2 separate regions of the Homo sapiens genome follow, and region 2 is linked to region 1. Evidence: fine-mapped expression QTL. A gene starts in region 1. The other region holds a variant in brackets. All regions are shown on one strand. Distances are between the middles of the regions.

What was found.
Region 2: its variant is fine-mapped to the expression of IATPR in whole blood (INTERVAL, PIP above 0.99).

The regions. Positions count from the first base shown.
Region 1 is chr10:33,114,573-33,119,955 of GRCh38, reverse strand. It overlaps IATPR (ITGB1 adjacent tumor promoting lncRNA), which reads left to right and starts at 3,149. Exons shown (of 3, transcript NR_160030.1): 1 at 3,149-3,485.
Region 2 is chr10:33,065,916-33,071,298 of GRCh38, reverse strand. The region is part of intron 2 of ITGB1-DT (ITGB1 divergent transcript); the gene reads right to left. Among named protein-coding and RNA genes, the nearest start is that of IATPR, 48 kb to the left of the region's middle. The variant T/C (reference allele first, on the strand shown) is at 2,199.

The DNA of each region.
Region 1 (5,383 bases):
TCGAGTAAGTAGGTTTTCAGCTTCTTCTTCTTTGGGTCATATACTCTGAAATCTTTGTAGATCCTTTTATCTTCCTTTTACTTTGTATTTGTCACCCTCTAAAAACAGATGTCAACAGCTTGTGGAGAGACAGAAGATATAGTCATGAAATGAGAGTCTTAGATCAAAATAACAATTATTTTGACATCTAGGGCACTTTATAGTATGCAAAACATTTTCACCTGCCTTATTTCTGAATCCCCACAACTACCCAATGGCATCAATAAGACAAACGTTTATTCCTATTTATTAAAGTTAAGCTCCTTTCTCAGGATCATACTTATTAATGGCTGAGCTGAAACTAGAAAACAAACCTCCTTGAATTGCAAGTATATGGACAAGGACAAAAAGAAAATTGAAAAGAATAAAATCAGCTGATGTGTCTGAATAGCAGATTATTTTCTCTCCAATGTTCCTTGATTGTAATTTTGCCTTTTCAGTAAACAAAATCAGAACTTTTTTTTTAAAGCTGAGTCTTTATAAAGTGTTTGGGCAGGGTTGGAATATTTTGAAGTATGTAATTTTAAAATAAATAACTCAGATTGTAGGCACAACAGAAAACTACACAGTGAATGTTCTTCTCGCTACTTTCATTGACTTTGATTTTTCTGGTTCTAGAAAAATGGTAGAAAATTGGTTGTAGTCAGAATTAGAAATAAAAATATATTTAGTACCATTGTGTTTGAGGTAAAATATTTGCATGCATGTATACTTAAATGCCAAATACAAGTGCGTCACATTGCATGAATAATGGAAGTGTTAGACCCTAAAGATGCCCCAAGATTTTTTGAATACCACAGAATATCTCCATGGACCAGCCACTAGAATGAAAGTTCCATCTTTGTCCAGTTCTATGGTAGCAACAGAACATAGCAAGTTAAGGCATAATGGCCTCTGCTCTCTATAATAGGTATGGGCTCACGTTTATTTTCTATGTCAGGCCTTCTAGTGGGTATAATAAAGGTAGACACAATCTTTATTTCTATATGCTGACTAGACGCAAGGGAGAAGTAGTGACCCAGAAAAGACGAGTGGTGGGGGTGGAGTAGATGGTGAATAAGGTTTACAGTGATTCCTACTTAGTAAAGTTCAGTCACATTCTCAGGAGTGCATCTGTCTACAGCTGAGCTGAAACTAGAAGGCGAACAGTGAATAGAACAAGGATCAGAGGCTGTGCCACTGACACAGCAAACACTCCCATTTGTCCCTACAGTGTTCCACAAAAAACAAACCTGAAAAACTGTATCCAAGTCTCTGGTGGGGGCCAGGGGTCCAAAAATCTGCATATTTAACCAGTATCCCAGGCAATTGGGGGCACACTAAAATATCTGTGTTCCTGCATGTCACCTGCTCAACAACTCAGAAGGTTACAAAAAGTAATCCAAGACTCAGGGAGGTTCTGTCAAACAGTGCCTGGGAGAACCAAACTTGAGCCCTTCTGATGCCAGAAATAGACTGTGTTCTTCACTGCACATTGCCACAACCTGGTGGCAAGTCTTTACAATTCTCTGAGCCTTGGCCTCCTCTTGTGTAAAGTGAGAGGTTAGGATTTCTTTTGTGTTTGGCATTTGATGATGACCCGAGGTGAAAGAGTTGTCTGCATCCAAGACAGCTGGATACCAAGGTGCCATTTTGGATCAGAGAAACTTGCACAAACTCTGGGCCAAATGGTTTTACAGTGGTCTCTGACTCTCTCAGACTAATTTAAGATGTATCCCAGAACGATTAGCCTATGGCCCATTTATATCAAGATCCAGCTGAGTTCTAATTGGCACGAGCAACCGCTGGCATGGTACACACAAGTGCTTGCAAAGGTGATTGCCAACAGCCACCCAGCTGCAGCGGAGAGGATGTGGGCACAAACCCTTCAGATTAGGGTGTGTCACTTGAGACCAGGCCAGAGCCATCAAAGCACCCTGTTTTCCTCCACCCTTTCCGACTGCCCCAAGACTGGCACAGGGTTTAGTAATAGCGAAAGTAACACTTGCCCATGTAGGGACCAACAGTCTTTTCTAGGTTGAGTTTTCTAACTTGAGTGAGGTGCCAGACAGAAAGATGCCACCAGAGAGATTTGGCTCCCCAATGTGCCATGCAGTAAAGCCTGGCCCTTATGGCCTGCCGGACAGCATTACAACAAGTGACAAGCGCACATTTACTGTCATGGCCTGACTGAAAATCCTTGTCGTCTTAATTTGTCATTCCGAAATATATGAAAACACCTACTTAGGCCACAAAGCCTTCTTTTTTGCCTAATGGTGTTCTAGAAATAAACTGGCAGTGAAGGATACTGCATTGTTACGGGGATGTTGTCAGTTGGTTTCGTTTATCCATTTATCAATGCCATTTTGCAAGAAATAGTCTCTGCTTTAGAGATGACACTTCATACATAACAGGGAGGGCGTGAGTTTTCCTTAACTGCCAGAACATTACATAATATAACATGTCACCAGGCCTCAAATGCAGCAGCAAAGACTCTGTATATAGGCGACTCCAGAGCCAACATGTGCTTAGCCAAAAAAAATGATTCAATGCCTTCAGAATGTGGGATGCAAAATGAGATTCTGTAGGAGTCAGGGGTCAATGGTGGGAGAGTGCAAGAAACAGATCTGACAGCTCCCAAGTTCGGGGCAATCTGTTCTCAGTTAACTAATAGTTGAGAGGGATCGCTGAAGGATACAACATTGATACCCCAAAGCGCTCCAATCAGTTTCACTATTTGGCCTGATTTTATGTGTCTGTTTTCCATTCCTCCCTAACTCCTTCTTGGGCTGCAGAATGGGCCTCATTTGCAGGTTTGGTTACCAGTTATCAACTTCCACTGTGATAAAGGACAATTAGGATACAACATTGATACCCCAAAGCACTCCAATCAGTTTCACTATTTGGCCTGATTTTATGTGTCTGTTTCCTATCCCTCCCTAACTCCTTCTTGGGCTGCAGAATGGGCCTCACTTGCAGGTTTGGTTATCAGTTATCAACTTCCACTGGGATAAACGACAATTAGGAGGTGGTGGGGACAGGAGTCCTGCCTGTGAAGTCCCAGTTAATCACCAAGCCATACAACCTCCCCTAAAGAGTCAAGAGCGGATGCAGGCTGTTGATGTTTTTCATTCAAAGCTCGCAATGCACCGTTCTGAAAACTCTCCAGCGTAGAATTCAGGAACCCTGAGTTTTCTATCTCTGTCTAGTTCTGGACTGAATGGGCTCAAGTCATCTAGTTAACCTCTCTGGATTTCAGTCTTCTGAAAAGTGAAGCTAAGAGATCTAGCATTCTGCAGAAAAGTACTGGAGATGACTCAGGACTGAAAATGATCATGAAGCCCCTTTGCAAATATCAAAGTGGTGATGAAGCAGTCATGAACTTTGACCAGAAGCCGTGTTTTGTGGGATTGCCACTTTAATCGCTCCTGTTCATCATTAGGACTGCAGCCAGAGTGTGGAAGGAGGTGAGTGCTTTGGTGGTCTTGCTAGGTTGCGGAGCGTGGGCTTTTGTGGATATGCAACAGTGCCCTCTATTGGCATCCGGCATATTTTAAGCCACTGGAGCTGATAAGTCCATTTTCCTCTGCCCTGTGTCTTTGTACTTCTTAGTGGAGGCCCAGAGAGCTTGTGTGTAAGGGGCTGTGACCAGACTGCTCAGCAAGGGCTTTTGCTTCGCAGAGTGCTGCGCGTACATTAGAAAGCTGCTGAGTGGAAATCTTATTCCCTGGGATTTTAAACAGCCACATTTCCTGGCGTTTGACATCAATGGGACATTTAGCAAATGGAGTGCCAGATGGAGCTCCTGGCTCTATTTTCTGTAAGACACTTGAGAGTCAGAACCCTCCCAATGTTTGCGCTTGATAGGCTTGCCCACCGTAGGGCTGGCCACGGCTCAGTGGATGCGGGGCATTCTGCGGGCTTGCAACGCGGGGAGAGCGGGGACACACAGGATAGCACGTGGCAGCTCGGCCTGCATTGCTACACACAAAAGCATTTCAAGTTCCAGCATCCTTGGTAATTCACTTTAACACTCAGTCACTCACTTCTCTTATGTTATCTGACTTCCTTACAAGCCACATGCAAGAAAACAAATAGTAATTGACTCACACTTTCACAAGCACTGTCTCTCCTGAACTTCTCAAGGCAGTAAGCAAGGCAAACCTCGGTGCCACTGTTTTGGAGATCAAGAAATGGAAGCTTAGATTGTTGAGGGACTTGCCCACAGTTCCATGGTATCACCTTATAACTTATAGAAAAAGCAATGAAATCTCAGATTTTTTCTAATATCTAAGCAGTGCTGTCTTCCCCACCCCCCACCCCCTTTTGTTTTTTGAGACGGAGTCTCACTCTGTCTCCCAGGATGGAGTATAATGGCATGGTCTCGGCTTGCTGCAACCTCCACCTCCCAGGTTCAAGGGGTTCTCCCACCTCAGCCTCCCTAGTAGCTGGGACTACAGACACAGGCCACCACACCCAGCTAATTTTTGTATTTTTAGTAGAGACATGGTTTCACTATGTTGGCCAGGCTGGTCTCAAACTCCTGACCTCGTGATCCACCCGCCTCAGCTTCCCAAAGTGCTGGGGTTACAGGCGTGAGCCACCACTCCCGGCCTCTCTTCCCCCTTTCTATGTGAACACATGTACTTTTATTAAATCATTTTGATTATTTTCTATTAATAATTCACATTTATATGAATCACAGAATTCAAGATTACTATATAGTCCCTAGAAATTGCTTTATTACTCACTATATTTATGAAGGCTCCTAGTAAATCTCCATGATGATATTTGGAGAGTCTCTGATATATTCAAAGTTGTCCTGTTTTTATACTGAAGGCAGCCGACACTGATCCAGTCAATGAAATCGTGATTCTCTAAGAATGAATATTTGGATTTTTTTTTTCTTTTCATAAGGTTGCGTGTCTTTGGTGTTCAGGCAGGTAGATGCCACATTGCTTTATTAAATTGGTGTAATGGAGCATGGATTTTTTTATATTGTCATATGCAGTGATAATCTAAAATTCTAGAGCTATGATTCATCTCTGAGGATGTTTTACTCATATTGCACAATAACCAAAAAGTATTTAGACCTCAAACAGCGGGTTAACTGGGCATGGCCCTGTCCTTGTACAGTTTGCATGCTGTTATTTTTACAGATGTTCTCCTCAGTTCCCACCTTAATTCAGGTCAGGGGAGTTAATGGGAAATGAAACTGCATCTCCTCTACTTCCCTCCTTCCTGCACGGTTGACTTGAATTATAAACCAACAGCTATGCTCTGCCGGTTGATAACTGAGTTGTTTACCACCTCAACCAGAAGATGCAACGATTAGCTGTTTTTTTCTGGCTTTAGAAAAAGGTTA
Region 2 (5,383 bases), 49 kb after region 1:
CTTGGTTTGCTCAGTCCCCATTAAGCCAATGTTGGGGCAGGCAAAGACGGGATGAGATGAGAGAGGCTCCACCGTGCAAGCGTGAGGGCAGATCCTGCCTTTCTTTATGACGTTAATATTTTGTTCATCATGGATTTTTTCCCATTGACTTTTACATTTAAAAACATTTCACAGCTGGGTGCAGTGGCTCATGACTGTCATTCCAACACTTTGTGAAGCCAAGGTGGGTGAACTGATTGAGGCCTGGGCAATACAGAGAGACCCCATCTATACAAAAAACATATATAAATTAGCCAGGCATATGTATGCCTGTAGTCCCAGCTAATCTGGACTCTGAGGCTCTGGAGGATCCCTTGAGTCTGGGAGATGGAGGCTGCAGTGAGCCATGATTGTACCACTCCATTCCAGCCTGAGCAACAAAGTGAGGCTCTGCTTCAAAAATAAAAAAAAAAATTAAAAACACTAAAAAACTGACCAAAAAAAGACACAATATATATATATTTAAAAACCCACTTCATTTAAAATATAATTTATCTTGACTGCTGAGCTACTTTATGTCCCCTTAAATTTATTGTTCCCCATGAGTTCTCATTTGTTTCACTCTAGTCTCAGCCCCAGGAAAGAGGTTAATAGATGCAAGTGACAGATGTGAAAGATGGCGACAGAAAAGTCACCATCTCTTAAGGGTCCCCCAAGAAGATGTGGAGGTTTTAACCCCCAGTACCTTGGAATGTGACCTTATTTGGAAATAAGGTTATTGCAGATGTAATTAGTTAAGATGAAATCACACATGAGTAGGACACGCCCCTCATCCCACATGATTAGTGTCCTTATCAAAAGGGGAAATTTGGACACAGACATGCACCCAGGGAGAAGGCCATGTGAATATGAAGGCAGAGACTGGGGTGATGCTTCTATAAGAAAAGGAATCCCAAAGATCGCCAGCAAAGTGCCAGAAGCCACGAAATTAGCCGAGAATAGATTCTACCTCAGAGCCCACAATCCTGCAACAGCTTGATCTTGGACTTGGAGCCTCCAGAACTTTCAGACAATGAATGTCTGTTGTTGAAGCTGCTCAGTTCGTGGTTCTTTGTTATGGCAGTCCAAGGAAACTAACACACCATCCCTGGTCTTAAGGACAGACCGAGCACCTCTGTATCAACCAGCCCTACTTCAGCCCTGTAGCCAGGGAAGACCAAATCAGCTCTCAGCCCAGAGATAAGCACATCAACGCAAATACAGAGGCTATGAGGGCAGGGTGGGAGGGAAAAGCTTGCTCACTATGGGGAGGATGAGGCAGAGTTAGAACCAGGGCCATGATCACCATCAGAACACAACCACCTCATAAAAATGCCAGAGCCAGGCAGGTCAGGTGGACACACATCTCTGAGGATGGGTGGGTGATCAAAGCAAGTGGGAGCAAGAGAGAATGTAACATAGGACAGAAGAAATTTAGCATTGAGTAATCCTCTGGGACACAGCTGCTTCAACTTGAGACAGCCTATATGCATTTGACTGACTCTGTGCTTTTACAAGGCTCCTACTATGTGCTCAGCTCAGTAACAGTTGCTGTTATCAGAGTGTGTAAGAGTCAGGCATGGTGACTTATGCCTGTAATCCCAATGCTTTGGGAGGCTGAAGCAGGAGGATCACTTGAGGCCAGGGGTTCGAGACCAGCCTGGGCAACATAGCAAGATCCTATCAAGAAAGAAAGAGAAAGAGAGAGAGATAAAGAGAAAGAGGGTGAGAGAAAGAAAGAGAGAAGGAGAGAGAGGAAGGAAGGAGCTAGGGAGGGAGGGAGGGAGGGAGGAAGGAAGGAAGGAAGGAAGGAAGGAAGGAAGGAAGGAAGGAAGGAAAGAAGGGAGAGAGATAGAGAAACAGTGTGTGAGTATCAAAATGAGGGGGCAACACTGAACCCAAGCTAGATTGGGGCCATATCAGAACAAGAAGAAAAGGAGAGGTGTGAACAATGCTACTTCCTTGAGCTTGTCTTAAGGTTGGTCTATATGAAAAATTTGTCTTTGGTCTTTAAAAGGAAAAAAAAAAAAAACAGAAGAGATGGAGGAAGGAAGGAAAAAGAAGGAGAAAGGGAGAAAAGTCGTAAAAGCAGGAGAAAGAGTTGAAGGTCAGGTTCTTATTCCCCTGCATCTGATTTCGGACTTGGTCTCTACAGGAGCCAACTCCTGTTCACATTTCAT[T/C]TTATTTTATTTATTTTTGAGACAGGTTCTCACTCTGTTGCCCAGGCTGGAGTGCAGTGGTATGATCTTGGCCCACTGCGACCTCCACTTCCTTGGTTCAGGCAATTCTCATGCCTGAGCCTCCCAAATAGCTGGAATTACAGGTGCCTGCCACCACGCCTGGCTAATTGTTGTATTTTTTGTAGAGACGGGGTTTCACCATGTTGGCCAGGCTAGTATCGAACTGCTGGGCTTAATTGATCTGCCTGACTCGGCCTCCCAAAGTGCTGGGATTACAGGTGTGAGCCACCACTCCCAGCCCTGTCCACATTTTAGATTCTTTTTCTGCCCTCCTGCTTGCACCAACTCTGAGGAGTAGGTGGATCTCCTTTGTGAAAACCTAAGCCTCATCAGCCAAGGTTGCTGTGTTAAAGATCAGTTCCCTTGCAAAGCACGACTTTTATCTTCTCTTGTGCACTCTGGATTCCAACTGCCCATGCAACAGGAAGAACAGGACTGGCTTCCACCTCAGGACAGGAGGCCTGGCCTCTCCTCTCTGGTGTCAAGGGGATTCTGGCTGGCCCAAACAACTGCCCTCGCCATGGGCAAAGGAGCCTTGACTGGTGGGTGCTGGTCATTGATACCAGGCAAGAATGAGATTAGGCATCACATGCTAAAGTGAATTCATTAGAGTCACTAATTTAACTTTCAAAAATCTCTTTTTCTCATCATTTTAAGGTTCCTCATTAACTACTTGAGGCTTGTTGCCTTTGGTTCCAATTTTTATCTTTACAACCAAAATGGTCCCTCTCTGTCCTGCTCCCTTTCCTAGGTCACTGGAGGGTGTAACCAATAGACTTTGCCTGGTGCTACGGTAGCAGGGCCCTGCCTATCATTTATTTTGGAGGGAAGGACAAGAGATAAAATAGGCAGAAATCCAGAGAAGAGGAAATAAAAGGCCAAACATTAGCTCCAGCCTAAAGCACATGGTGCAATCCAGCTTCTAGAGAGTTCTGTGCTGGGAAACAAGGTATTGGCAGGCAATTAACAAAGCCCACTTTGTTCCTCACTTGGCATAGATGCCATGAATTAGAACCTGGGCTAAATGACAAAATAAACTACTCATGCTGGTGTGATTCCTCAATCACAATTGACAGCTATTATTTAAATGAACATAGAAACATTTTTAAACGTTTCTGAAAAGTTAGTCTAAAACAGTCATTTTTTAAAATTGGATCAATGGCATCAGAATTTCCATTTCTGCCCACCCCACCCACTACCTCCTGCCACCAGATCAACTGAACTAGAATCTCTGGAGGTGGGTTAAACACATTTGAACAAGAGTGCCAAGTGATTTTAATGCATCCTGAAGTTCGAGGTCTGGAATATCATGTAGCACACTGTAAAATGAATCGGCATTTTCTTGCCCATGAATACAACATTCCAGTAAGTCCTTTTTTTACTATTTCTCAATGAGCTTCTCTTCCTCCTGCCCCCACTTTTTGCCTCCTAAATTAAACAGCTTCTCTTCTCTCTGCCTCAAAGTCTCCCCTGATCCATAGCCTAGATCTGATATTTTAGAATAGATTCTAGTGTTCATAGGATTATTTGGGTGAAATAATTACCTAGAGCTCCTCAGAGTTAAAAAGCTTCACATCTACAAATACAGACTCAATACCTAAGAAGTTAAATTTAGTCAAATAGCATTGCTTTGTAAAACCAAGAGAGATTTATCATTATAAAGGAGGAATTCTCTTTGAACCAAAATGTTGGTGACCATTAAAAACATGGTGGGACAAAAGGTAGAGATCCCATCCACCTGTAAGTCAGTGATTCTCAACCACAGGCAATTTTGTCCCCCCAAGGACACTTGGTAATGTCTGGAGGCATTTTTGGTCATCACAACAGGGAGATGCTACTGGAATCCACTGGGCCGAAGGCAGGGATGTGACTCAACATTCTACATTGCCCAAGACAGCTCCTAAAACAAAGAATTTCATGTCAAGCGCCAGCGTTGAAAAACCCTGTCATAAATCATAGGGCTGTTTTTCTAAAAGGTCAACCGGACTTGCTAAGATTAAATGAGAACTGGGTGACATTAGAGATAAGAAGCAACAACAGAGACACTCAAGAAAGCCAGGAGCAGAAGCTAGAGGGCACTGCAGTGAAGGAACGAGAACTGTGGATTTTTTGGGTAGTCTGACACTTGGGAAAGGGAAAGGGAGCTCATACTGAGGACAAATGTGGCAGACACTGTTGGTTTGTACCAGAATTAATTCTTCCCATCTTTCAAAGTGATATGATTAGAGCTGGGCATATCACTGCCCAAGGCCACACTGCATATCCTGGCTACCTGGCAGCTGAGTATGACCACGTGACTAAGTTCTCATCAATGAAGGGTGAGCTGATGTCATGTATGCAACTTCCACCCTGAAAGGAAATTGCTGCCCTTCTTCCTAGTGAGCTGAAACACGGACTAACCCATAACAAAGCCTCGGCCAGCAAACTCTACTAAAGATGTAGAAAGTGGCTGGGTGTGGTGGCTCACGCCTGTAATCACAGCACTTTAGGAGGCCGAGGTGGGCGGATCACCTGTGGTTGGGTGTTTGAGACCAGCCTGGCCAACATGGTGAAACCCTGTCTCTACTGAAAATACAAAAATTAGCCAGACGTGGTGACACGTACCGGTAGTCCCAGCTACCTGGGAGGCTGAGGTGGGAGAATGACTTGAACCTGGGAGGCAGAGGTTGCAGTGAGCCGAGATCATGCAACTGCACTCCAGCCTGGGCCACAGAGCAAGACCCTGTCTCAAAAAATAAAAAATAATAAATAATAAAAGTTGCAGATAGTAAATACTTTTGGCTTTGGGGTCCATTTGGTTTGTTGCAACTACTCAACTCTACCTGTTAAAGCAACTGTAGACAGTATGTTAACAAATGAGTGTGGCTGGGTGCCAATAAAACTTTATTTGCAAAAACAATCTGGGAGCCATCATTTGTATATCTCTTCCCTAGGAAACGACAGAAGAACAAGATGAAAGGATCATGGTCCCTGATAAACTTAATAAAGTGAGATACCCCACCAACTCAAATCATTGTTATTAACATGAGACAAAAATGAACATCTCTATTTTTTTTTTTTTTTTTGAGATGGAGTTTTGTTCTTCTTGCCCAGGCTGGAGTGCAATGGCACGATCTCGGCTCACT